Homo sapiens: one gene and its partners. The protein of the gene in region 3 interacts with the protein of the main gene of each other region in a pairwise test. Each region holds a gene or a part of one and is shown on either strand. Other genes may lie near its edges. The genes, in order: ESRP1, MAPK8IP2, SDC2 and MICOS10-NBL1.

The links.
Region 1: the proteins of SDC2 (region 3) and ESRP1 interact in binary tests that used the Homo sapiens proteins (3 or more experiments, as listed by UniProt).
Region 2: the proteins of SDC2 (region 3) and MAPK8IP2 interact in binary tests that used the Homo sapiens proteins (3 or more experiments, as listed by UniProt).
Region 4: the proteins of SDC2 (region 3) and MICOS10-NBL1 interact in binary tests that used the Homo sapiens proteins (3 or more experiments, as listed by UniProt).

What each region holds. Positions count from the first base shown.
Region 1 is NC_000008.11:94,658,143-94,665,173, reverse strand, and holds part of ESRP1 (epithelial splicing regulatory protein 1), read right to left. Parts: intron 2,903-7,031; coding exon 2,804-2,902; intron 2,674-2,803; coding exon 2,619-2,673; intron 478-2,618; coding exon 367-477; intron 248-366; coding exon 115-247; intron 21-114; coding exon 1-20. UniProt on the Homo sapiens protein: mRNA splicing factor that regulates the formation of epithelial cell-specific isoforms. Specifically regulates the expression of FGFR2-IIIb, an epithelial cell-specific isoform of FGFR2.
Region 2 is NC_000022.11:50,596,017-50,603,793, reverse strand, and holds the start of MAPK8IP2 (C-Jun-amino-terminal kinase-interacting protein 2), read right to left. Parts: upstream 3,002-7,777; 5' UTR 2,976-3,001; coding exon 2,911-2,975; intron 2,006-2,910; coding exon 1,900-2,005; intron 572-1,899; coding exon 296-571; intron 169-295; coding exon 75-168; intron 1-74. UniProt on the Homo sapiens protein: The JNK-interacting protein (JIP) group of scaffold proteins selectively mediates JNK signaling by aggregating specific components of the MAPK cascade to form a functional JNK signaling module.
Region 3 is NC_000008.11:96,587,812-96,594,842, reverse strand, and holds part of SDC2 (syndecan-2 precursor), read right to left. Parts: intron 1,364-7,031; coding exon 1,252-1,363; intron 1-1,251. UniProt on the Homo sapiens protein: Cell surface proteoglycan which regulates dendritic arbor morphogenesis.
Region 4 is NC_000001.11:19,599,979-19,606,978, reverse strand, and holds part of MICOS10-NBL1 (neuroblastoma suppressor of tumorigenicity 1 isoform a precursor), read right to left. Parts: intron 6,193-7,000; 5' UTR 6,031-6,192; coding exon 6,008-6,030; intron 1-6,007. UniProt on the Homo sapiens protein: Possible candidate as a tumor suppressor gene of neuroblastoma. May play an important role in preventing cells from entering the final stage (G1/S) of the transformation process.

The DNA of each region.
Region 1 (7,031 bases), 1.9 Mb from region 3:
TCACCTGTTGCTTTGTAAACCTGAGAAAAGACAGAGAAGTTAGTGTTTCTGAGCCTTCCGTCCTATGTTAATTCTCATTCACGATGTCCAGGGGTTCAGGTTTTGAGGACATACCTCAATATACCGGGTCCCCATGTGATGTTTGTGCCTCTGTAGTGCTAGGTCTCGGTGCTCCTCACTTACAAACCTAACCAGAGCTTCTCCGTTCCTTCGACCCTGAGCATTCAGACAAAGTGCTGCACCTCCCCTTTGAGAATAATAAAACAGACAGCAGGTAGAAAAAAAAATACAGTGAGGAAAAAAAAGATAGAAAATCCATTATCCCTTTGGGATTGTTAAGTAAAATAGATATTTAAGAAAACCAACTTGGCAATATTGAGTCCTTTGAAGAATCTTGCAATATCTTGATCTGAAGACTGCCATGGTAAACCTCGTGCCCTGACTACGGTGTTATCATCAATAAGTTCCATCTTGCTGCTGTGGATGAAGCAAAACTTCAGGTTGCATGATAAATGCTAGCAAGTCAGACACCTATTACCCCCTGCAAGACAACTGCCTAGTTACACAGGATGTATTATTTGGTGTTCAGACAGACTAGCAATACTACTTGATTTTCCTTATAACCTCAAAAATTATGTGGGTACAACTCAAAGTACTGTTTAGGTGGTTCATTATAGAAACATGGCTGCCTGTGCAGGCCCAACACAGCTAGCTCACTCAGCAAACCATCTATCTATCAAAGCTGAGGAAGGCCAGGCGTGGTGGCTTATGTCTGTAATCCCAGCACTTTGGGAGGCTGAGGTAGGTGGATCACCCGAGGTCAGGAGTTTGCGACCAGCCTGGCCAACATGGTAAAACCCCGTCTCTACTAAAATTACAGAAATTAGCCGGGCATGGTGGTGTACGCTTATAATCCCAGTTACTTGGGAGGCCAAGGCAGGAAAATCACTTGAACCTGGGAGGTGGAGGCTGCAGTGAGCTGAGATTGTGCCACTGCACTCCAGCCTGGGCAATAGAGCAAGACTCCCTCTCAAAAAAAAAAAAAAAAAAAAAGCTGAGGAAATGTTTGCTTGGCACCCTCATGTCCTGAAAGTTCCTAGAACCCCAAAAGATAGGTTTGAATTCATTCTCAAATCTAGACAGTATACATGTGGGGTTTAAATCCAGTTTAGCAGCCGAATTTAGGATCAGAATAAAGCTGACAATTAACCCACATGAGGAATGTGTGTGCATGGTAGGAAGTCTGCCATTAAAATATCCCCCAGATCAAACCAGGGAGCCATCCCAGAGAATGTCCATAGAAATGCCTGTGAGTCCCTACACCTTAATGACTCATTTGCAAATCACTTATTATATATTTTGACACCTTTTGATGTCTTATCCCTCCCACGTTCACATTTTCAGTTCTCCTAGGACATTTTCTTAATAAGTCACTTTCTCCACAACTAATCGGCCTCAAAGTCTCTCTCTATGGGCAAAGCTGTCAGAAGTTTCTATTCACTTCAGAGACCAAGCACACACTCAATTCATTAGAGTGATTTACAAACAGGTCTACCTGCGATCACTAACAGACACCACTTCATACTTCTCCCCAGCTATTTCCTTGGCTTTAAAGTAGAAACCTATATAGCCAGGCACAATGGCTCACACCTGTAATCCCAGCACTTTGGGATGTCAAGGTGGGTAGATCACATGAGGCCAGGAGTTTGAGACCAGCCTGGTCAACACGGCAAAACCCCATCTCTACTAAAAATACAAAACTTAGCCAGGCATGATGGTACACATCTGTAATCCCAGCTACTGGGAAGGCTGAGGCACAAGAATCGCTTGAACCCGGGAGGCGGAGGTTGCAGTGAGCAGAGATCACACCGCGATATTCCAGCTGGGCAACAGAGCAAGTGTCTCAAAACTAAAATAAATAAATAAATAAATGTACTTATAGAATGTACGTAAAATTTTATCTCAGTAAAAATTGTGAACTCTATTAAAGCCTACAATTTCTCCTTTGGAAATTTTCTAAATGAAAGATCGGATAGTTTGGGGAGACCAAAATAACAATCACAGATATGAGCATATAATATACTTAAGGTCAGGGTGACTAAAGATGCCAGTAAGTCATTACATTTTATTCCCAATATCAAGCTCTAAGTAATACAACCTTCTTTTACAGATGACCGAACAGCAAGAAAGGATAGCTAAAAGGATTAGTAAAGTTTCTCAAATATAACAAGAATTAAGAGGCACAATATGAACAAAAACAAGTTAAAGGCCGGGCGAGGTGGCTCACGCCTGTAATCCCAGCACTTTGGGAGGCGAGGCGGGCAGATCACGAGGTCAGGAGATTGAGACCATCCTGGCTAATATGGTGAAACCCCATCTCTACTAAAACTACAAAAAAATTAGCCAGGTATGGTAGCGGGAGCCTGTAGTCCCAGCTACTCGGGAGGCTGAGGCAGGAGAATGGCATGAACCCGGGAGGCGGAGCTTGCAGTGAGCTGAGATCGTGCCACTGCACTCCAGCCTGGGCGACAGAGCAAGACTCTGTCTCAAAAACAAACAAACAGACAAAAAAAAAAAACAAGTTAAAAAGCTCAAATAAATAGTACTCAAGCACTTACCAAGTTCCACTTTCAAACTTGTAATTCACTCTCTCTGGATCTGAAAACCTGTGATCTAAAAATGAGAACATAAAAGTCATCATTTTAGTGATTAGGGAGACAAAGTTGTAGGAGGAAATTTGAGTATAGGTAAGAGAAAAATAGTATGAATTCTGGGACTGCACTACTATAAAAGCAATACTTACTATAAGGCTCTGAAATCATTGCTAAAATTATATTCCCCATATCTTCAACTTGAGAGGCTCCATATCGAGAGACTGAACTACTCTTCTCAAAATTTAAATCTGTGAGATTAAATTAAGGAAACACTTTGGAAAGGTAAAATCAGGTTACTTCTAAATCAAAATTAAACCTATACCAAGCCAAGAGGAAGAAGATGGATCTAGCTGAGCTTCCTTTAGAAATCTCAGAATGGCTGCCTCCCATCAGTCAGTCATTCAACTTAGGCTCCAACTGCCCTTTTGGGTAAAAGAGGCAAATCAATCCAGTGCTGAGATATTACCAGGAATACAATTTTTATTTACCCAGTTGTAGCAAATGAATACTGAGCATTTTCATTTCATTTTGAATCAAAGTATGCAACAAAGTTAATTAGAATATTTCATCCTCTGAATCTTTACAGCACACACAAGGCAATGACCATGCCGACTTCATGATATGGTGACATTATCAACACTACAAGGTATTAAATGACTTTTTTTTTGGCCTAATGTTTGAAATGGACACCACAGATTATTGATGTGACATTACTTCCACAATGCCACTTTTGCTTAGAAATTCTATTATAGAACACTTTTGGAGCCCTGTAGGATAGTCCACCTTTGATGACAGCAGATGCTAGTTCTAGACAGCAAATTTTGGAAACAATTCAAGCACTCAGAGCCAACACAGGCCAATGTGCTTCTTTACCAAAAGTATACTCTTTGAAACACATAGCTCAAACTTGGTTTGAGGGTGAAACCAGGAATTCACATGAAGTTTTGCGAATCTCTCTAAAATAAGGATGTATTTCCATCAAATAGAGGCATACCTTGAAAATATGGTAGGCTTGGTTCTACACCACTGCATTAAAGTGAATATCACAATAAAGCAAGTCACACAATTTTTTGTGTTTCCCACTACATATAAAAGTTATGTTTTGACTGTTCTAAGTATTCAATAGCATTATGTCTTTTAAAAAATGTACATGCCTTAATTCAAAAATGCTTTGTTGCAGATGGGCACAGTGACTCACACCTGTAATCCCAGCACTTTGGGATGCCGAGGCGGGAGGATCTCTTGAGACCAGGAGTTCGAGACCAAGCCTGGCCAATATGGTGAAACCCCATCTCTACTAAAAATACCAAAATTAACCAGGCGTGGTGGTGCATGCCTGTAATCTCAGCTACTCAGGAGGCTGAGGCAAGAGAATCGCTTGAACCCGGGAGGTGGAGGTTGTAGTGAGCTGAGAACACCCCACTGCACTCCAGCCTGGGCGAGAGGTAGACTCTGTCTCCAAAAATAAAAAACAACAGAACAACTTTGTTGCTAAAACATGTTAATCATCTGAGCCCTCAGTGAGTCAATCTTTTTGTTGGTGGAGGATCTTACCTAGATGTTGATGGCTACTCATAGATCAGGGTGATGGTTGCTAAACGTTGGGATGGCTGTGGCAATTTCTGAAAATAAGACAACAATGAAGTTTGCCACATCAATTGCCTCTTCCTTTCATCAAAGATTCGGTAGCCTGTGATGCTGTTTGAGGGCACAGGCAGAGTTGACTTACTGTAATTCTTGGTTTTCTTTGGTTTTTTGTTTGTTTGTTTGTTTTGGTTTTTTTTTTTTTTTTTTTTTTTTTTTTTTTTTTGAGATAGTCTCGCTCTGTTGCCCAGGCTGGAATGCAGTGGCACAACCTCAGCTCACTGCAACCTCTACCTCAGCCTCCCGAGCAGGTGGAATTACAGGCACGCGCCACCATACCCAGCTAATTTTTGTATTTTTATAGAGATGGGGTTTCACCATGTTGGCCAGGCTGGTCTCGAACTCCTGACCTCAGCTGATCCACCTGCCTCAGTATCCTAAAGTGCTGGGATTATAGGCGTGAGCCACTGCACCCGACCTCATTTTTGTATTTTTTAGTAGAGATGGGGTTTCACCATGTTGGCCAGGCTGGTCTTGAACTCCTGGCCTCAAATGATCTACCTACCTTGGCCTGCCCAAGGGCTGGGATTACAGCCATGAGTCACCACCCCGGCCAATTTAGCATAATTCTTCAGAACGCTAGGATTTTTAGGACGGTTAATGACCATTAGCTTTAACTTAAAAGTCACCAGCTACATTAGCCTATAACAAGAGAATCAGCTTTTGAAGCAAAGCATTGATTTATCCTCTCTAGCTATGTTAGTCCAGGATGGCATCATCTTCTAAGAGAAGGCTGTTTCTAGTACATTGAAAATCTGCTTAGTGTAGCTGCCTTCATCAGTTAGCTAAATCTTCTGGGTAACTCACTGCAACTTCTCCATAAGCACTTTCTGCTTCACTTTGAATTATGTCGTAGAGCTGACTTATTTCCTTGAATCTCATAAACCAATCTCTGCTAGCTTTTCTTCTGCAGCTTCCTCACTTCTCTCAGCCTTCATAGAATTGAAGAGACTTAAGGCCTTGCTCCAGATTGCGCTTTGGCTTAAGGAAATGTGGTAGCTAGTTTGATCTATCCAAACCACTCACACTCTCTCCATATCATAGCAATAAGTATATTCCATTCAAATTACACTTTCCTCTCTTCTATAAATGACAAGTGGTACCCAGCCTTCTCATCTTTGCTCAGGTAACACCCTATAATGTTTTGCTTTCTTATCATTCATATATTCACTGGAATATTCAAGAAATTTTCCTTTACGCAACTTGACAAATCATTTGGTGCATAAGGCCTGGCTTTTGGCCTCCCTTAGCTTTTGACATGCCTTCCTGACTAAGCTTAATCATGTCTAGCTTTTGATTTAAAGTGAGAGATATGAAACTCTTACTTTCATTTGAAAGGTTAGATGCTGTTGTAGGGTTAATTGGCTTAATTTCAATATTGTGTTTCAGGGAATAGGGAGTCCCAAGGAGAGGGAGAGAGATGGGGTAACCACCAGTTGGAGCAGCCGAACACACACAACACTGACCAATTAAGTTTGCCACCTAATATGGCCCTGCTTTATGGTGCCCCAAAACAATTACACCAGTAACAAAGATCACTGATTACAGATCGCCACAACAGAATAATGAAAAAGTTTGAAAGGTGACAGAGAGACAAGTGAGCAAATGTTGTTGGAAAAATGGTGTCAATAGACTTGCTGAATGCAGAGTTGCTACAAACCTTCCATTTTCTTTTTTTTTAAACAAAACAAAACTGGCCAGACACGGTGGCTCACGCCTGTAATCCCGGCACTTTGGGAGGCCGAGGTGGGAGGATCATTTGAACCCAGGAATTCAAGACCAGCCTGAGATAGCGAGTCCCCATCTCTACAAAATAACAAATTGGCCTGTCATTGCATCTACTCAGGAGGCTGAGGTGGGAGGATTGCTTGAGCCTGGGAGGTCGAAAAGTACACCACTGCACTCCAGCCTGGGTGACAGAGCAAGATGCTGTCTCAAAAATAAAAGATGAAAATTTAAAAAAAGACAAAATACAACAACTGTGAATCACAATAAAGTGAAGCACACTAAAACAAGGTGCACCTGGGTGAGCAGACCCTAATGTGCTCCGCAAAACCTAACATTGACTTTCTAGCCCCTTATAGCAAACGGTTATTGACCTGTGACCTATTACAGAAGAATGGAGATTGCAAAAAGATGGCCAGATACAAAGGATGCCACAGGAATGTTTGTCAATCAATCTCAAAAAAGAATATGGGGAAAATTTAGACTTGAAAGGAGTATAAAAGTATATTCCATTCAAATTAAGCTTTCCTCTCATCTATTAATGGCAGGATTACCTAGCCTTCTCAACAGTGCTCAGGTACCACCCTATAAGGAAAGCACTCTTATCTTAATCCCCTAACCAAATTAGGCCACAAATGACCCACCAAAACTGTTCTAGGCCACAATCGTCAATTTAAGAGTTCATTAGATACTATTCCTAAAATGTTATGCTATTTTCTCGACTGTTGTAACATTTCCTGGGTGTAGGCCCCCATCTTCCTCTGATCTCTTTCCACCTATCAACATCTCTATAGCTTCCAAGGATCTGCTGACTTAAATGGTGGCATTTACTGGACACCATTTTGTGCCAACCACTCCCTATTTCTTCCAATTCTCATAATAACCCTGACAGATAAATTACAGCAAAACCAAACAGTTGTAGAACTAAGATTTAGTGAGGCTAGGCATGGTGGCTCACGCCTGTAATCCCAGCACTTTGGGAGGCCGAGGTGGGTGGATCACTTGGAG
Region 2 (7,777 bases), on a different chromosome or scaffold from region 3:
CTTCCAGCAGCCAGTCCATCCTCCCTGCCCTCCTCCCCCGCTTCCCCGCGCCCCGCGGGCCCACCACCCCTCACCTCTGAGGGCCTCCGGGGCGGGTGAGCATAGCGCTGTCTCCTGCCAGGAGGCCGGACGCACCAGGTCAAAGCCTCCGTTGTTGTTTAGGGAGTCCTGGGGTGGAGATACATGACGGCGGTCCTGAGGAGGGCCAGCTCCCAGGGGGTGAGCAGGGCTGGCTGCAGCCCAGGTGCTATGAACCCAGGCTCAGCTCCAGGGAGCTGTGGGTCCGGGCACTCACCTGGGCCCCCAGTGTGGTCAGACGGAGGGTGGTGGGCCGGTGCTTGTGGGGCTCCTCCACGGAAGGGGAGGGGATAAGGGGCCCGGGGGCAGGTGCCTCTGAGCCAGGGTCTCCTCCCTCCTGGCCTTCCCCATCTCCCTCCTCCTCCTCCTCCTCCTCTTCCTCGTCCTCATCGTCCTCCTCTTCATTGTCATCGATCATCTCAAACTCCTGGAAGTCATCCTGGAAGGAGCAGATGGGGTGCGGCTGCTCCGAGCGCCCCAGGGAGAGGCTGTCCTGCAGGACGGAGGGAGATAGCAGGGCTGGGCCAGAGGGCAGCAGTAGCCCAGGGGCCCAGGTGCTAGGAGAAGGGAAATCGGGGAGCATCAGTCAAAGGAGAGCCCCTTCCAGCTCACTCTGCCCCTCTGTCTACAGGGCGATGTTTTCAAAATCTGCCTAACACACATTGGGATCACTCCAGTTCTTGGGAAGGGCCTAAACTCTACAGCTGAATGACAGGGATTCTCAGAGCAGCCCCAGCCCCACTTTCAGACTCATCTAACTGCAGAACCCCATCACATTTGACACCAGCACTGTGTTCCCTTCGCAGCGTTTTAACACAACTTACAGTTACTGGACATGGTTTTTGGTCTGTTGCAAGCCCCACCAGGGCAGGGTCATGTCCATGTTATGCACTGTTGCACCCGCCCCCAAGAACAAGACCTGGGGCTCAGCGGATGTTCAGTAAACATCAAACAGATGCAGAAATGGAGAGACAGCCTCTGCACTCTGAGGATTCACCAACTTTGCGCCAACCCCAGGGCCATTGGCACAGTTATTCCCCATGCTGGCACTTCCTCTCCTCCATTCCCTCCTACCTACCCCATCTGCCTGGCTCTGCTAACCTCAGGGCATGGTTGACATTTCCTCTGGAAATTCTCCCTGATTCCTTCAGTGTGGATTGGGTTCCCTTCCCCCTCGTGGAACTTATGTCCCTGTTGGAATGCAGCCCTTGACACGTGGGCAGCCATTGTCCCTTACAAGTCTTTCTCCCCTACTAAGTTGCAGCTCCAGAGAGCAGCTGTCCTGTTCCACTCCCAGCACCCAGAAGCCCCCAGTACTTGCCACATGGCAGTTGCTCAGAAATGTTCTTCAATAAATGAAAGCAGAAATGTGGAGAGACAGGGAGGAGGAGAAGCAAGAGATGGACGAGAAAAGATTTCAGCAGGGGGAGACATGAAACAGACAGATGGGAGCTGCAGACGAGGGCACAGGGCTGCAGAGGGGACAAGGTTGTGATGGCAGCTGCCAGGGATTAGATCTTTCTGGGAGTGATCTGAGGACAGAGGGCACCCAAAGCAAAGGAGCACCTCCCTGCCCCGGGCTGGCCACCGATGGGGTCGGGGAGAATGCTGGGGAAGGCCCTGCGTGGAGGCCTGCAATGTGTTGGAATAAGAGAGAGTTGATACCAAGGAAACCTCAAGGGTTAAGTGGGGAGGAGCCATCAGAGGAGTCCCCGGTTCAAGGCTGAGCTCACACCCACCCTAAAACCCCAAGTGAACGCTAAGAAGAACCTAATGAGGCCCTCCCTTGAGCTGGATCTGTGTCCCCAACTCTTCTCCCACCTTCTCACAGTGGTCTGAGTCGTAGCTGAGGCCCAGGCCACAGTCATCAGTGATCTCAGACAGATCTTCGTCGTCAAATTCTTCCAGGCTTATGTCCTGGGGAGGCCTGGAAAGGAGACCAGGGTCAGAGAGCCACCAACCCTGGACTCCCTGCCTGGCAACTGGCCCTGAGGAGGGGCAGAGGGAGGCGTCAGCTCCTACACCCAGTGGTTTCCACAGCCCCCAGCTCTCGGAACACATCCTGCCATCATCTTGACCCCCAAGCTCTGCTCGCCTGTGGATCCCCTCCCCCATCTGAGCCAGGCCTGCCCGGAGGAGCCAACCCTGCCCCCACCCCTCCCACCCCGCCTCCCTGGAGAGCCAGCAGCCTCTCCTCCCTCCACTCGCAGCTCCAGGCCCCTGGGGTCAGGGTCTTGCAGAGCAGGGGAGGGGGAGCTGCAACGCGGCAGCGGCAGATGGGGAGGGGTCGCTCCTGCTCTGGGAAGAGAGTCTGGCCTGTTTGTCTCCCCCTCTCCGGCGGAGTGAGGCCTAAACCCAGAGGCCCAGCGTCCTCCCAACCCCAGTCCCTTCCCGCAGGGCTCCGGGCTTGATTTCCACTCTCTCCCGGCCGGGCCCTATCGGCCAGGTCTGGCGTCCACTGAAAGAGGCCAAGGCCACCGGGACACGCCGCGCCGGGAGGGTGTGCCCGCATCCCGCCCGCATCCTCCCCCGCAGAGGGTCGGCCCAGGGCCTCCACCCTTGACAGGTCAGCCGTCCAGGCCGGGCGCGGCTCAGAATCCCGGCGGGGCCCGGGGGTCACTGAGGCTGGGGACGCGCGGTGAAGATGGAGGGAGTGGGAGCGGGGTGGGGGTGGGGCGCCCGAGCCGAGGCTCAGGGACCGCAGGGGGCCGGGGCCGGGTCCGCGCCGGCGGCGGGGCTGGGGCGGCGGGGACGGGGGTCCGGGCCGGGTCGGGGTCGGGGGGGTGCGCAGGGAGCGGAGGGTCCGCCCGGCCCGGGCGCCGAGGGGGGTACCTGCAGCCCGGCGGCGACAGCGAGTGGAAGGTGGAGAGAGAAAACATCTCCGCGCGATCCGCCATCTTCTCCGGGAGAGGCCCGCGACTGCGGCGGGGGGTGCGGGAGCCTCGCCGCGCCCCGCGCCGGCGCTCGGCCCGCCCCGCTCACCTCGTGACACGCCCTGCGGCGTCCGCCCCGCGCACCTCGCCCGGACTCCGCGGCGGCGCGGGGAGGGCGGCGGGGGAGGCGGGGGAGGGACGCGGCCGGGGACGCTGGTTGGAGGAGAGGCGGCGGCTTCACTGCCGGGCGCTGGTTGGGGAAGGGCCGGGCGTGCGATGAGGATTTTTCCCGGGGAGGGGCGGGAGGGAAGGGGCGGGCGGGTGGGCGTCGGGCCCCGCCCTGGAGGACCCGCGCGGGGCGGGAGGCCGAGGAGGCAGCGCCGGGGTCCGCGGGCCTCGGGTTCGCCGTGGGCTGTTTCCTCTGGGCGAGAGGCCGGGGCGGCCCCGGGAGCTGCGCCGCCGCGCCCAGGATCCCCCCAGGAACCCTAACCCGGGTGCGGCCCGGAGCGGGGTGGCGGGCGAGGCGGGAGGCGCGGGAGGAGCTGTCCGCCGTCGGGTGCTGATCGGAGCTGTCCCCACGGGGTGCTGACCGGGGCTGCACGGGGACGTCTGCACGAGGGTCGCCGAGCAGGGCTGGATTCAGAATCGAGCACAAGGTACTCAGAGGATGCTGGCTGGGGCTAAAAGTGGACTTTGAGCACTCAGTAGAGACTGCACAGCCGGACGGACGTACCGACGGGCACTGGGAGAAGTTAGCACCCACGGAGGCGACATGCGTCCCACTGGAAACACTTTTTCTTGGGCACCGTGTTGCTGGGCCCTGTGTAGGGAACTGACCCGCTCTGGCTTGGGATGGAGCCCTGTGGGGAGGGCCATGGTTGAAGCTGAGCTCGAGACGGTGGCTGTGGGAGGAGGCGGGAGATCAGGGTTGAGGGCGCAGAACTAGGGAGAGACTGCAGGACACTTTTTTTCTTTCTAAAATAGAGACCGGTGGCTGGGCGCGGTGGCTCACGCCTGCAATCCCACCACTTTGAGAGGCCAAGGCGGGTGGATCACGACGTCAAGAGATCGAGACCAGAGACCATCCTGGCCAACATGGTGAAACCCCGTCTTTACTAAAAATACAAAAAAATTAGCCGGGCGTGGTGGCGGGCGCCTGTAGTCCCGGCGACTTGGGAGGCTGAGCCAGGAGAATCATTTGAACCCGGGAAGCGGAGGTTGCAGTGAGACGAGATTGCGCCACTGCACTCCAGCCTGGCAAGAGCAAGACTCCGTCTCAAAAAAAAAAAAAGAGAGAGAGAGAGACCGGCTCTCTCTGTATTGCCCAGGTTGGTCTCAAACTCCTGGGCTCAGCTATCCTCTGGCCTCAGCCTCCCAAAGTGCTGGGATTACAGGTGTGAACCACAGCACCTGGCTAAATATTGGCTAAAGAAGGAGGCTGGCATTTCAACAAAAGCGCAATCCCTTTTCCCCCTTGATGAAAGTTATGTGCCCTAAGATTTCTTTATGTCTTAGTTCTGCGGAAAATTCTTTTTTTTTTTTTTTTTTTTTTTTTTTTTTTTTTTTTTGAGACAGAACTTGCTCTGTTGCCCAGGCTGGAGTGTAGTGGCACGATCTCAGCTCACTGTAACCTCCACCTCCCGGGTTCAACCGATTCTCGTGCCTCAGCCTCCCGAGTAGCTGGGATTACAGGCAATCACCACCATGTCCGGCTAATTTTTGTGTTTTTAGTAGAGATGGGTTTTTGCCATGTTGGCCAGGCTGGTCCCAAACTCCTGACCTCAGGTGATCTGCCCTCCTTGGCCTCCCAAAGTGCTGGGATTACAGGCGTGAGCCACCGCCCCTGGCCTGGAAAATTATTCCTTAGGAAAGGACAAGGCACTTGAGTGACAAACACCAGAAACGACATGGCAGAAGGAGCTCATGCAAGTCGGGAAGGGGGGTATCACCATTCCAGCTCAGAGAGAGGCCTGTGGCCAGGGCCTGATTGAACCTGCACTCTTTGGTGTCCCATCACAATTTATATTTTATGCCAATTACAGTATTTTTCTAAGAATGGCATTTACTTGGCTGGGCACAGTGACTTACACCTGTAATCCCAGTACTTTGGGAGGCCAAGGTGGGTGCGTCACTTGAGCTCAAGAGTTTGAAACCAGCCTGGAAACATGTCTCTACCAAAAATAAAAAAAATTGGCCGAGCCCAGGAGGCAAAGGTTGCAGTGAGCTGAGATCACACCACTGCATCCAACCTGGGGGGCAGAGTGAGATCCCATCTCAAAAAAAAAAAAAAAGCCATTTACTAGTTTATGCTTGCCTTCTTGACTTGGGTTGGCTGGAGAGAAGAGAGGCTGTCATCTCTCTGTGAAGCCCTAGGCTCCAAGCATGGTGCCTGGCAAACAGTAGGTGCTTAGCAGACATGTGAATGAATGAATGAGAGAGCTTATGGTCTCTAACCCAGTCTGGGGCATCAGGTCTTTGCCATAACAGTCTTTTCCCTTTTAGAAGCACTAAGAACATTCCCCATTTCTGAGGGAGTCTGGGCCTATTAACCACTCCCTGCCTTTCCCAAAAAATCCAGATCCCTTCCCAGATTTCACAGAGAGTTTGACCTCAACTTTCCAGATTGGCTTTTGATCCTGAGTCTTTTCACCAAACTGGTTCATCTGGACATCCACATAAATGACCCATCCAATACCCTGGTCAGTCAGTTCCTTGATTTCTGATCTGTCAACAGTCTTTAATACTCAAGTGTAGTGACCTCTCCCACAAAGTGCCTCCAGGATCTACCTTCATCTGGAATTGCAGCAAGCTTAAAATCTTTTTTTTTTTTTTTTTTTTTGAGACAGGGTCTCACTCTGTCACCCAGGCTGGAGTGCAGTGGTGTGTCCCTAGCTCACTGTAGCCTCAAACTCCTGGGCTCAAGGAATCCCCCTGCCTCAGCCTTCTGAGTAGCTAGGACCACAGGTGCACACTACCATACCTGGCATTTTGTTTGTTTTTGTAAAAACAGGGTCTCACTATGTTACCCAGGTTGGTCTTAAACTCCTGGGCCCAAGCCCAGGTGATGGCCTCCCAGAGTGCTGAGATGACAGGCATGAGCCACAGCATCCAATCTGAAGTCTTATAGTCTCAAATTTCATCTTAGATCCTAATCCCCAAAACCTTCCTCAAGCCTCTCCCCTTCCTTCCCTCCCTCTTAAAAGATGGTCACTCCCAGGTCCCATGAGCGTAAAGACCATGAGATGGGGGATACCGCCCGCAATTTTATCTGTGGACCTCCCATCTTGCCCCCAGAGCACAGATGGAAGATCGTCGGCCTTAAAGTCTGAAATACGGGAGCCACTCTTCATTTTGCACCAACTTGTTGAACGTGGGCAAATTACTCAGTTCCTCGAGATCTTGGTTTCTTCCTCTGAGCAATGGTGCTGCGAGGACCACATGTCGTGGTGTAAGCCCCAGACACAGGCCCTGTTGTTTGTTGGTGATCATTTAAGGCTCACCTTTCCCCTGCTCCTCACACCGGGGACATGTCCTCCCAGTCCCCCAGGGCTGCTCTGTGCAGCTCAGGGATACATTAGTGAAAAGGCAGCAACTCTTTCCTGAGGGGGTTTATGCTCCTTACATCATGCACATTTTATCAAATTTGCACCTTCCTTGTGTGCTCCTCAGAGCATCATTGTATGGATGAACAAATGGGGGTCCACAGGGAGCTGAACATCCCTCCTTGAAGTTCCTCCTCCAGCCTCTGGGCCACAGGCACTGGGTTTTCCTTCCTGACCACCACCCGTTGTCAGCGTCCTTCCAGACTCCTTCTCCTTCAATGACAAATCAAGATGTTGTGACGCGACCATTTTAACGCTTTCTTCCCTCTATGGTGCACGAATGGCATAGACATTACAAAGCACAAAATTGATTGGACTTAGAAGGGAGAGTTGGAATCGCAACAGCTTCCACAGTCCTGACCACAGCAATTCTAAAAAGTCAGAGAACATTTTCTGACAACTTTCTGAGAGATTAGAAAACAAATGCAAACTATCAGTATTTATTGTACTCATATTTCACAGAAATCACAAACACAAAATAAATATGCCAATGGTTAAAACTGCAAACAGACACATTTAATAAAGATGAAAATTAAGAGTTCTACCTTCACCATGGTGAAGTCCTAACGCCACCATTTCCCGAATCTTCATTTTTATGCAGCCAGGTCTCTGATCACTACCTCCTACTTTTCTTGGTCTCTTGCTGCATTACTACAATACCCACTTTTTTTTTTTTTTGAGACAGGGTCTTGCTCTGTCACCCAGGCAGGAATGTAGTGGTGCAATCTCAGCTCACTGTAACCTCTGCCTCCTAGGTTCAAGCAATTCTCCCACTTCATTCCTCAGAGTAGTTGGACTATAGATGTGTGCCACCACACCTGGCTAATGTTTTTATTTTTTGTAGAGACAGGGTTTCATCATGTTGCTCAGCCTGGTCTCAAACTCCTGAGCTCAAGCAATCCACTCACCTCAGCCTCCCAAAGTGCTGGGATTACAGGCGTGAGCCACTGTGTCAAGCCTTTTTTTTTTTTTTTAACTCCATAAGAAATGTGCTTCAATTACTATTACTGTGTAACAAATTATCCTCAAATTTAGTGGATTAAAACAATTAAGTTGTTATTTACAATTGTTTGTTTTGAGGGTGGAAATTCAGGAAGGACTCCAATGGGAAGTTCTTGCCTGGGTCTCTTTTGAGGTTTGGTTGCAGTTGGAGGTAAGCCTGGCTCGAGGTCTGAGATGGTTCATTCAGAAGGTTGGCAGTGGATGCTGAGTGTGAGCTGGGGG
Region 3 (7,031 bases):
CTCCCTGCTGCCACCATGTGAAGAAGTACATGTTTGTTTCCCCTTCTGCCATGACTGTAAGTTTCCTGAGACCTCCCCAGGCATGCTGAACTGTGAGTCAACTAAACCTCTTTTCTTTTATAAATTACCCAGTCCCTGTGTTGTTAGCAGGGTGAGAATGAACTCATACAGGGGCCATTCTGAGAACAGGGGAAATATTCATCAATTATGGTAGATTGTAAATGTGACCAGAATCCCTTAATCCTCCGTGTATACATATCCTCTGTAAATGTGACTTTATGAATCCTTTCACTAAGAGGTGGAGTCTGTTCTGGCCTTCTGACTTGCTTCAACCAGTAAAATGTAGTAAAAGTGATGCTGTGCCCAGTTCTAAGGCCTGGCTGCAAGAGGCTTTGCACACTTCTACTTGCTGTTACTGTGAAAAAATAGCTTGCCTACTGGAGAATGAGAGACCACACGAACAGAACCCAAGTCTGCTCAGCTGCCCCAGGGATATGAGTACCCGAAAGCTGCAAACCCAACCTAAAGCTGTACACTCAACCGGCAGCTGACCACTGACATGTGAGGGAGCCCAGCCAGCCCAGCCTACATCACCAACCTACAGAATAATAAGTTAAATGAATGACTGTTACTTTAAGCCACCAAGTTTTGGGGTGGTTTATTATGTAGCCTTAGAGTGGTAACAGATAACTATTAAGGAATAATATACTAAGGAATCTGATCATGTCACTACATAATCATTTTACTTGGCTGCTGCATTTTCCTCCTACAATACCCTAGGAATAAAAACGTATTAACTTCTTGGTCTCATCTACAATTTTTAACATAGGGTAGGTGGTTTTATGAAACCAGTGTTTGAGGGATTTCTTGAAGGGTGGTTTCCATGACATCACTCTGAAAGTCTTAATACGATTAAAAGCTAATGTTGACAGAGCACTATGTGCCAAGCCCCCAAATCTAAGAGCTTTAGATGTGTCAACTCCCTTTTAATCCTCACAACAACTCTATGGTAAGGACTATTGTTACTTTCCATTTTATAAAGGAGGAAACTGAGGCTCAGCAAATAAATTCTCAAGATCTCACAGCGTAAGTGGCAGAGAGAGCTAGAATTAGCACCCAGGCCCTTTGATTCCAAAGACGGTGCCCTTAACCACTGTGCATCCTGCCTGTCTCCTTGAAGTAAGCACAGTAAAATGTGTGTGCGTGCATGCCTGGAGAATGAGGTCCAGTGTTTAGAAGCAGCCACCTTACCCGAGCCAGACGCAGAAGCGTAGTCATCGTCATCAATAGGATACACTCCTGAAGCTTCTTCAATGGAGCTGTTGTCAAGGTACATGTCTTTATCAGATGTCAGCTCTGCTCTCTGAGAAAGGAAAGACAAGGGAGTCAGGATGTTGAGAGATTAAGAAACACACTTGTATATCTGATTGTTCAGGTACATACTGCAGTGACTACCCCTCCCACTCCCACAGTAGTCTGAATCCACATCTCTGGCCACAGTCTTCCTCAGGCACCCTGACAACTTAACAGCAATTTGAGAGGTGAGCACGGACTAATAACCTGCAAGGGAAGCCTACACAGCTTAAACCAGTAGAATGAAAACATTTCGGAGATCTAAACTCCTATCTTGGGCTTATTTTGTTGCATTCCACTAAACTTACCTGACTTTCAGCCATCCCAATGCTAGTTATAAGCCATCTTGGGCATTCTCTTTGTCACTCCCTTACTGGAAAGGGAACAAAACACTTAGGACTTTCTTGGGGATGTATGCAAAGGTATTACGGCTTAGCTTAGGCTAAATAATCACCCAGGGATCCATCAAATCCTACCAGTGCTTGCAGGCCTGGCAATACTCAGAACTTTACCGCTACAGATGAGAGATCCCCAGTCACCTGGGTCCTCAGGCCATGCAGGCCTTTCTACCCCAGCCCAGACCTGTGCTGAGGCCAGCCACAGTGCCCGGAGAGGAGCAGCGCCCGTGAGGCTCACCTGACAGGGAGAAAGCCCACTGCACGCCTGCTTCTAGGGCTCATTGGCTTAGCAAAGCCTTAATGACAAATACAGATAAACCCACACGAGCACATTCTTTTTCTATTACTGGCAACTGGTAATAGCAAATCACACGCTTAATATGGAGAGGGATCAGTCACTAAGTATACCAGTTCCACAGCTTCTTAACTCTTCAGTAAGAGTTTAGTATTAAAATTCAACCTAATCCTGCCAAAAGAAGAACTTGCATGAACTGGAGACAGAGTAGAGGTATAAGACTTTAAAAAATGGTTTTAGTAAATTGATATTTTACTACCATTATCTCGCAAAAGCCCAGGAAAAAAATAATAAAGCAGACAGGCAGCTTTTAAACAACGCTTGTTTGGAAACAGGCAACACTCATTATTGCTCTATTTTTAAAAATCATATAGAATGTTTGCTCTTAACAGAAATTATAAAATAATGTTTCCCTTACTACACTGGCTTTCATTAGATTTAATCTTAAAATAAAATTTTCTCTTCCAGCAGTCGCTGTGATTGGAACCTTCCTAAGAGGACAGGTCCAACCCTCTGTAACAGTACCACTTTATTTTCTCAGGTTTCAGCAGCTGGCTAGCAAGGCTAAAGCACTTTAAACCTGAGCCCACATTCTCCACCAGGCCTCAGTGCCAACTGAAAGCAAAGCATGGGAATCTATTTTGTTTGAGCTATCACACTGGTGGATTCTGAGAACTGAAACCTTAGGGACTGGTGTTCCAGTGGCCTGGACCACCCTGAGCCAAGAGTGTGCTGCAACTTTTCTAGTAGAATGGTCAGAGCTTAACTCTGCAATCTGACGCCACCCTGTTTCACTGGTTTCCAAGGCTATCACCATTCCAGATTGTAATTCCCAAAGCTTGTGAACTGTGTCAGGAGCCCTGTGTTCTACAGCTCTATCATCAACTGCCTCCTCTTAGGCTCTCAGCTCCTTTAAAGGCAAGGCTTCCCTCCCCCAGTCACAGTGCCTGGCATATAGTAGATGCTCAGTAAACACCGCTTGGGTTGAACCACCATTCGTGCTCCCATGAAAAAGCCATTCTCCGTCCTGCTTGTCTTAAACTTTGTCCCATTTACTTCCCCTGGAGGACCTCCTGGTTTCTTCTCTCAAATCCTGGCTACTATGAAACAGGCTGTGACTTCTCCACTCCTTATACACCTCCTAATTATAAAGTACTATTTTAGGATTTTGTAGCATATGAACAGTTTAAGACATAAACCCTCACTGTTACTTTTCATTGTTTCATGTGCATTTTTCTTGCCCCTCAGCAGAGTACAACTCATTGAAGGCATGTTTTGAATGACCTGTGTTCTCTGTCCCTCTCAAAATGCATGGCCACAAAATAAATATTTGACTGAGATTACTTAAACCAAATTGGCCTTGGACTGAGGTTTCAGAGTTACATGTCACAAGACCTCCAGGATCCTCGTAGTTTAAAATCTCTCCATTTTAAGCCTAGGAGACCATCTGCCCCAAACCTCCTATAGCTTGCATTGCATCTATTTAAGTAACCTACAGTCTTAAAAGTAAGCAAAATATTCCCTTTCCATGTTAGAATCTTGTTTCCCTTTTCTTAACATTGAATGACTTTCATTTTCCTCTTGGCTCTGTCAATGAAGTTTGATGTGGCAAGGGTAATACTGAGATACTTAATCCCTATGTGTAAATTGAATTTCAATTCATTCGATGACCCAGTTGTCTGGACTAACACATCTGTCATGCTACCAGGCAGATGGGCCAAAAATGCCTCCCAGAGAATTCTAGCCACCTCACCGTTCAACCACACTGGCAGTCTGACAAGCCAACTGACTTCCTGGGACAGCCGTCAGGCCTGTATTTCAACAAGACTTGGGGTGGAAGTCAGGGTGTGTCTAGAGAAGCTGGCTTACCCTCAGCCACTCAGTTACTTGGGGTCTACAGGGCTCCCGGGTGGTCTCTGGGCTGACCAGATGTTTAATGTGTTTAAAGGCAGCCAAAAGTGTGTTTCTCTGTGATCCAGGGTGGTGAAAATAATTTTGAAATCAAAGTTCTCTCCCACTCTGATTTCAGGAGCACAAAGAACATAGGAGAAATTACCAATATCTTTCCATGAAGTCCAATTTAACATAAAGCAGGGCCCTTTTCACTCTGTAGCAGATAATGAATACCTCTATTGCCTTCCCCTTTAAAAAATAAAAAATAAAAAAAAACCCCTGCGCTCATGACAAATTCCTTTTATGAAGACTCCACACTCTGTTCTGAAAGGTTTCTGGAATGAACATGCCTAGGACGGGAAATGATTTATGCACCAATATTCCCTTGGGACAAGGAGACAAGCATCTCCTCAAGGCCATGAAAAGGGGTGAATTCGAAACTACCGATTTTACACCTGGCGAAATGTAGTCTGCTTGACTGAGGAGAAAACCTCGGGACATACTCTGCACACACTCCCTTACTCAATGGGACCGAGACGCTGGACGAAAGCAACTGGAAGGAAACGTGCAGAAGCACAAGTCCAGAGCTGCAGCCTGGCTGTAGGGTGTCATAACGAGGCTGTTTAATTTGGGACTGACCATCGCTGTGAGGCAGTGCCAATACTGTTGGCTAACAGGGTCCAGAGTACAAGCTGGGAGAAAAACAAAGCTGGTCTTTCAGACCTTTCCCTTTTGGCTGATGCAAGATGTGAATACAGGAGAGCAAAGGAAGGCTGTGGAAAGCAACAAGGTACGACCAAGAGGAAAATGTGCGGCAGACAGATAGAGGGTTCTGCGTAATGCCACATTCAGCCAGGGAAACTGAAGCACTACACTGCCTCCATAGATGAAATTCCCAGAGGAGAATGCGCATCTGATTCAGTTGTGTAAACCCACAATGCCTAGAAGGAAGGCAAGATACATACTTGTCTCCTATCTCCACCCCTTTGCCTCTGGCCCCCCGGCTCTGGCTAACTCATCATGTTGGGCCTGGACCTGGACTAAGGCCTCCTGACCTTGTCACTGCCCACGTCCGTGTCTTTGAAGCCATTCGATGCAGAGGGACTGTTCTTGAACTCAAACATCATCGTATCACTCTCCTGCCTTTATTGGCTCCCTGCCACATAGAGGATGACATAAAAACTCCTTAGTTGGGCCTAGCACAGTGGCTCACGCCTGTAATCCCAGCACTTTGGGAGGCCAAGGCGGGCGGATCACCTGAGGTCAGGAGTTTGAGACCAGCCTGGCCAACATGGTGAAACTCCTTTACCAAAAATTACAAAAATTAGGCGGGTGTGGTGGCAGGTGCCTGTAATCCCAGCTACTCGCAAGGCTGAGGCAGGAGAATCACTTGAACCTGGGAGGCAGAGGCTGCAGTGAGCCAAGACTGCGCCACTGTACTCCAGCCTGGGAGACAGAGCAAGGAGACTCTGTCTCAAAAAACAAACAACAAACAAACAAACAAACAAACAAACAAAACAAAAGTCCTTAGCCTGGAAAAAAGTTCTTTACCAAGTGGCCTCAGCTGCAGTTCTAGTCTCAGCTGCTGCTGCTGCTTCCTCTACCCAAACCCCAGGCACCAATACAAAAACACCAAGAAGAGATCTGGTGACACTACTTTCCTTCGTATTATACCCCTAAGAGGAAATAAACACCTTTAGGTTGGAAAATTGAGGACAGCGATGGTGATTTAGGCCTTCCACATTTGATGATAAAAATTTAGAGTTTGATAAAATGATTCAGCCCAAACTTATACGGTAGTTGTAATAAAAATGACAAGAACAAGTGTTAATTCAATACACAAAAGATCAAGTGTAGTAGAGTCTTGATGTAGTCAGAAACATCACAAACCTGTCCATTTTCTCAGCGAAGACAATTTGTAGGATAGCAACTGAACAAATCTATTTGTTTGATTTTTCTCATGTAGGTAAAACCTACACTGAACAAATACCATGTTTCAAACTGCCAGTGTGGAAATCTGTTATTTAGAAATTCAAAGCCTTGTTTAAAAAACACAACGCCTTACCTACTAAGCAGAGGTCCTGCACATGCTTTCAACCAGTGCAACCAACACAGTGGTCAAAATAATTAAAGCTCAAATTAGTAAATGTCGAATTTACTTTATGGTTTTAACTCAGGTTAACAACGAAAGCAGAAGGTAGAAAACTTAATTATGGATAACTCAGACTCCCAGACCCAACTTTCAGAAAATTAGCCTTTGAACATAAAAATAAAATATCCATGTGGCCTAATAATACATTTCTGTATCACATCACAGACAACAAACATCTAGATGATGCCTCCTGTTTTACGGTAAAGGCAGTCCAACTCCAATTATGACTCAAATGTATATTAACTTTTATGATGATTACAAAGTGCCAAAAAGGCTATAACTGTAGCTTATCTTTCCATAGGTGACTCAGTAAACTATTTTATTACTAGCAACACACATTGTAAAGGAAATAATAATTAGCTAAAAATTTATGTCACCCACACAGTCACTCAGAGATGATATACCTGTCCTTAAGCTAAACTTGTCAATTCTGGCTTAGGTCTAGCCCAAAGGAACATACAATTTTAGAGCTTGACTGGACACTATAGTCACCAAGATCACTGATTTATTTCACAAATGAAGAAACAGAACACCAGAGTAGCAAAGTAGCTCAAAAGTCCTCTGGTCTAGCTGGTGGCCAAACTGGAGCCCGAAGCTCTTGACACCTAAGTGTGGGCTCTTTCTGCTGCACTGTCATGCCCCACAACATGAGTGACATCAGACCATTCAGCCTCGGGTTCAAAAGGATTAGCTGTGGCTGTTAGGTGTTTATTACGTGCCAGGCATTTTGTGCTTAGCATTTTATTAAGCATTGGCTCATCTAATCATCTCAACAATCTCCAGGGCCTACCCAGGAGATTGTTGCCTGAAATCATACAGCTCCAAAAGTAGGGACTTGGGACCTCAAAATGTATGTCACTGAGCATGTTCAACATGCTGCCTACCTCGTCCCTCCCTTTTCCTGTGATTCACACATAATAATAATAAAGGACTGGGGAAG
Region 4 (7,000 bases), on a different chromosome or scaffold from region 3:
ATCTATCAGATGAACTGATACTTAAAGAAAAACAATAATTTGCTTTCTTTTTCCATGACTATTCAATGGCCTCTTTTAGTATTTTTTTAAACATTAAAATGGCTTCAAACAATTTAACTAGACTTGATTATTGAATGAATACACAAAATCTGCTGGTTAACTTTAATTCTAAGGCAAGTCAGCTTCTAAGTCTTTTACTGTCCTACTTTTTTTCTTTCTTTTTTTTTTTGGAGACAGAGCCTTCTTGTTCTGTCGCCCAGGTTGGAGTGCAATGGCCTGATCTTGGCTCACTGCAACCTCACCTTCCCAGGTTCAAGTGATTCTCCTGCCTCAGCCTCCTGAGTAGCTGGGATTACAGGCATGCGCCACCACACTCAGCCAATTTTTATATTTTTAGTAGAGATGGGGTTTCACCATATTGGCCAGGCTGGTCTCAAACTCCTGACCTCAGGTGACCCACCCTCCTCAGCCTCCCAAAGCGCTGGGATTACAGGTGTGAGCCACCGTGCCCAGCCCTGGCCATACTTTCGTAACAAGGAAGAAGCAAGGCCGAATCCTTTCTTTTCATAAAGATGAATGCATGATAAACCAATAACTTTCATCTGTTAACTGAGCTGCATATAATTAGAGACCTATCTCAAGACATACTAGAAATTAAGAAACTACAAAATGTTATTCCCCTCTCTGCCTCTCCTATTTGTCAAAAGCAACACCATGCTCATTTATGTAGGCTTGGCACCACCTGACTCCTCCCACTCCTGAGCCTGCATTTCAAGTTCTGTAAATATAAACTCTGTACTAGCATCATTATATCTCTCTTTTCCACTCCTGCTGCTCCCCTCTTAGTTCATGCTTCCTCTCATTTGATCAGCTCATCTTTGGCAAGATTTTGCAATAATATACTAAGCTAGCTCCCTGCCCCCACATCCTAGCACTCCAGAGAGTTATTCATTCTCATCACATCAGTGATCTTTCTGAAATCAGAAATTCAACCACGTCACTTTTCAGCTTACCATTCAATGAATTTCTTCGAATGCTAAACATAGAATTGCCACACAACCAAGCAATTCCACTCCTAGGTATATATCCAAGAGAGATGAAAACATGTCCACATAAAAACTGGGGGGCTGAGCACCATGGCATGCACCTGTAATCCAAGCTACTCAGGAGGCTGAGGCAGGAGGATCACTTGAGCCCAGGAATTTGAGACCAGCCTGGGCAAAACAGACCCCATCTCAAAACAAAACAAAAATGTGTACACTTGATCACAGCAGCATTATTCATAAAATTTAAAAGCGTAAACAAACTAAATGTCCACCAACTGACAAATGGATAAACAAGATGTAGTACAAATACACCACACAACATTATTTGGTAACAAAAAAGAATGATGAACAGATAAATGCAACAGCATGGATGAATACTGAAAACACTACCTAAGTCAAAGAAGCCGATACAAAAGACTACATATTATATAACTCTTTATGTAAAATGTCCAGCATAGGAGACTCCACAGAGACAAAAAGTAAATTGGTGGTTGCCTGGGGCTAAGGTTGGGGTGAGAGTTTGGGAATAGGAGCAGCTGCATCCAGTGTTTCTTTTGGGGGAAGCTAAAAATATTCTAAAATTAGATTGTGATAATTGCACAATTTGGTGAAAAAACTAAAATTGTACACTTTAAATAGGAAAATGTATGCCATGAAATATATCTCAACAAAGTAGTTTAAAAAATCTCCACAACTTCCTACACCCTTCCACCTTTCCTGCCTCATCTTTTGTCCCTCCCCACATAAATCCTTTAACCCCAAAGGATAAAATCTCCTGCATTAACATGTGATAGCTACAAGAATGGGGTTCACCTTCCTACCCTTGCAGCTGTAGCCTGTGATCCTAAAGGAGGGATTCTGCCACCATGAGCTTCCATTGTAAAAATGGAGAAATATCTTACAAGGATATGAGATAATGATGTAAAATATAACATGCTCAGCACCGTGCCTGGCATGCGGTTAAGTGCTCAATAAGTGATGGTCATTCTCATCATTCCCAGAAGGAACCAAAGTATCCCTCTCCTTTGGGACACCTTCAAGGAGTGAAACACACTCCCCCACCTGGTCCACCTATTAAATATCTGCATATTTTCCAAAATGGGGGTCAAATGTCCCTCATCCTTTTCACATTCCTCAAGGCAGTAAGCCCCTCGAGGGTAGGGCCAGTGCCTATTCACCTGTGTGCCACCCCCTGCCAAGGCTTACCACAATACCTGGTACTAAATTGTTTCAAGAAGTACACATTAATGATTACTATTACATATATAAACATGAATATTGATTATCAGACCTACAATAGCCACGACCCACAATAAGACCCACCTACGACCCACAATAGCCAAGATCAGGGTAAATGTGTTAATCATTTTAACTCTTTTACCTCTACTCTTCAGCGACAGCCTCCAGTTTTTATTTATTTATTTGAGACCAAGTCTCACTCTGTTGCCCAGGCTGGAGTGCAGTGGCTGCATCTTAGCTCACTGCAACTTGCTACTCCCGGGTTCCAGCGATTCTCATGCCTCAGCTTCTCGAGTAGCTGGGACTACAGGTGCGTACCACCACACCTGGCTAATTTTTTGTATGTCTAGTAGAGACTGGGTTTCACCATTGTTGGCCAGGCTGGTCTCAAACTCCTGGCCTCAAGCGATCCACCCACCTCAGCCTCCCAAAGTGTTGGGACTATAGGCATGAGCCACCACACTCAGCCTCCAGTTAATAATATTTAGTAAGTACAGGCAACGTCCTAACTGCTCTAGAGATTATCTCATTTTATCCTCACTTGCAACTACCCTCTGGGGCAAGTACTATCATTTTATAGATAAGAAAACTGAGGCTGGGAGGTATTTACTGGTACATTTATTTTGAATGAAAAAAATGAGGAAAAGAAAAACAAAATGACTGTGTATGCCACTACAGTTCACTGAATTGAATACATTCTAGGGGCTCCTTGTAAATGTCCATGGCTTGCCTTTTTTCTTGCTACTAACGGAAATCACTGTTGTGCTTGACACACCTGGCTTGCCAGGACAGTCTTTTCCAGGAAACTCTCCAGCTTTGGGACCTCTCCCTCCACCATGACATCTCCTCCCTGCCTTCATCCCAGCCAGCCCTCTGATTCATTCTCATCAATGATTTTTCTGAAATCAAAAATTCAACCATGTCACTCTTCAGCTAACCATTCAATGAATTTCTTCAAATGCTAAAATACAGAGTTGCCATACAACCTGACTTCTATTAGAATAAACTAGAATTCTAAACCAATACATGGATTAGTAAGACTAGATATTCCTTACTCTGGTCTCACATTGGAGCAAAACAAAGAGAAAAGGGACACAGCCAATTTTAAAGCTATCCAAGTCACACTAGGGATTCCCAGGACCTCCGTATGAATCCAGGAAGTGCCAGAATCAGATTTTCCTCAAAGCGTCCTCTGGCAAATCCATAGTCTGAGGACAGGCCACTGTCACACAAGCAACATCAACTTGGTCAAAAGGTCCACAGCCTGCTGGTGCAAGCCTTCGGCATTCAAGAAGAGTAAGTTGTAACAGAATTCTGAGGCAATGACAGTGTTTCTGCTTCTGTTTGTTTGTTTGTTTGTTTTGAGATGGAGTTTCAATCTTGTTGCCCAAGCTGGGGTGCAATGGCAGGATATTGGCTCACTGCAACCTCTACCTCCCGGGTTCAAGCTATTCTCCTGCCTCAGCCTCCCAGTAGCTGAGATTACAGGCATGCACCACCATGCCCGGCTAATTTTTTGTATTTTTAGTAGAGATGGGGTTTCGCCATGTTGTCCAGGCTGGTCTCGAACTCCTGACCTCAGGGGATCTGCCTAACTCGGCCTCCCAAAGTGCTGGGATTACAGGTGTGAGCCAGCGAGCCCGGCCTAGTGCTTCTGTGACCCACACCTGTAGGGCTCATAAATTCTCAAACCACAGGGAAGCAGCCCCTGGAAGTCTATGACTTTTCTCATCTCCTAAAATCTTATTTTCCTTGGGAAATTGAAAACAGACATAACCTCTCATCCAGTCCAGGGTGACAAGCCCAAGCTGAGGACATCGGCTCTGTGGAGACCAGAACGATTTAAAGTCTCCTAGGTTGATAAGACACTATGCCTTCTAGCCTCACTAATAAGAAATGTGTGACTTATTCATGCTCATGGGTACTAAGACAGATTACCCATACATACAAGGAAAATAAACACCACAGCCCTTGAACTGAGTGGATAAAGAAAGCCAGAGCATTTAATAAATCTGATAAAACTTAAAAATAAATCCATAAAATAAGCAAAACCCATTAATGACGCATTCACATAAAACTAACGGAACATGCCATTCATAAAATGTAATATTCTTCACTCCTTTTTAATTTCCTGCAATAAGGCTTTGGCACTACCACTTAAACCAACATCATCCCTCTACTTGTTTAAATACAAAAGTGCTCTCTGGTTTATGTTTCTCAGTTGACTATTCCCAAACATTTTTAATACTACTTTATTATTAAGATCTACTGACAGTTAATTTACATTCCCAGATGAAATTAAAAGTTGGTATAAGTCCCAAGAACACAAGGATACATGATCAAACATGTGAACGGGCAGAAATCTACTTTACTTGGAGTTTTTCAGTTAAATACTAATTCATTCAGTTAATAAACACACTCTGAGAAGCAAATATGGGCAGAGAACGGTCTACAAAATTCTCAGCAATACATGTCATTCATTTAACAATAATTATTGTACGCCTCCTCTAAACCAGGCGTTAGGGGATCAACAGTGAACACAACAGCCTCTGGTTCTTATGAAGTTTACATTCCAGGGAGAAGAAACAATCAAGTAAAGAAACCAATTACAAATTTCAAATGGTGAAACATGCTATTAAGAAAAATGATGTGATAAAGAATAAATAGAATACCTAGGAACTTCTTAAATGCTAACAGGGTTACTAAGGAAAAAAGACCTATCAATGTCAAACTTTATAGATGAACTAGGCAATGTATGTAGTGGCAGTGGCAGGAATAAGAATAGAGGTCAAAAAGAAGTGTAAAAATGTGACAGGAATAAAGAAAAAGAAAGCAACAAGGGCTAAAAAAGTGGAAAAAAGAGAAGTGGATGTGTAACAAGTAAGGGCCCACTGTGCCCATCACTCAGAGCTCCCTTCCAAGAGAAAGATGGGTTTTAATTTTTGCTATTGTTTTTAGATCCATGGGCTTAATTTATCAGTTCAAACCATACTAGAAATCACCTATTCTTCCACACTATTTGATACAAAATAAATAGAGGTTTTAAAACCCGAATAAGCAGGTAAAATATAACTGCTTTTCTTTTTTTTCCTTTTTCTTTTCTTTTTTTTTTTTTTTGAGAAAGGGTCTTGCTCTGTCGTCTGGGCTGGAGTGCAGTGGTGCGATCACAGCACACTGCAGCCTCAACCTCTAGGCTCAAGAGATCCTCCCACCTCAGCCTCCCAAGTAGCTGGTACCATAGGCGTATGCCACCACACCCAGCTAATATATATATTTTTTGCTGCAATGGGTCTAACTATGTTGCCCAGGCTGGTCTCGACCTCTTGGGCTCAAGTGATCCTCCCACCTTAGACTCCCAAAGTGCTGGGATTATAGGCATGAGCCACTGTGCCTGGCCTAGAACTGCTTTTCTTAAGATAGTAATGGGGGCAAGGGTATTTATAAATAAATGCCTCTTCCTACAGGACAAAATCATATGATAATTTTCTATTAAGATATTATTCAAGCCTCAGGGTGAAAAGATCCTTGAAGATTACTTTTTTAAAGGACCACTGCCTAAAGTACAGGCTTAAGAAAGCTATTTAACTCAGCTATACAACACCTATGCTAAACACGAGTGATTATAATAGTCATCGTACAGCAAACAGGTGGGAAAATAACCCTGGTGAACCCTGGAAGCAAAACACTTTAGGTATAAGACAACCAAACAGAGAAGGACTCACAGAAGTTGCTGTGCATTCACCATGGCTTCCCTTCAGTCTTTGCCAAGCCAGAGTATGAAATTATCAAGATGGACCAGGTGTGGTGGCTCATGCCTGTAATCCTGGCACGTTGGGAGGCCAAGGTAGGTGGATCGTTTGGACCCTGAGTTCAAGACCAGCCTGGGCAACATGGTGAAACCCCATCTCTACAAAAAATACAAAAGTTAGATGGGTATGGTGGTGCGTACCCACAGTCCCAGCTACTCAGGAGGCTGAGGTGGGAGGATCACCTGAGCTCTGGAGGTCAAGGCTGTGGTGAGCTGTGATTGCACCACTGCACTCCAGACTGGGTGACAGAGTGAGACCTTGTCTTAAAAACAACAAAAACCCACAGTGAAATTATCAAGATGGAGCTGAAAGCCTGCATTGGCCTTTTCTTCCTGTCTATGTCTTCCACCAAACCTCTTACCTATCTTATGACAGGCTGCCATTCCCTGAGTCTCCATCTCCATTTTGAAATACCAGAAAAGCAAGCAGCCAATGAGGTTTAAAGAGTTCCAGAACCTCACTACCCAGAGAAAACAGGAAGCAACACGCTCACTATAGAAGAGCGTACACCTTCATGGTTTCAAAGACGACTCAGACTAAAGCCTCCCTTACTTCTTCTCTCTTCCGCCCTCTCTCTCAGCCCATCACCAACAGGACAACTCCCTTATTTCACAGATGGGAAAAAGTTTGAAATTTCTCAAATATGCCCATTTATTCCAGTCTAACAGGTCAGACTTTTATCACCTCACAATCACAGTACTGCTAGTTTCCTCTGCTCCAAATTCATTCTGCCAGAACAATCATACTAAAATTTCATTTACTAGGTTGGTGCAAAAGTAACTGTGGTCTTTGCCAATTTTTTTTTTAATGGCAACCTAATATATTACGTCAATTCCCTGTTGAGGGCAGTGAAATGTCTTATGCTTCTCTATTTGCCCGCTGACTGACCCACAGCTCAATAAATAT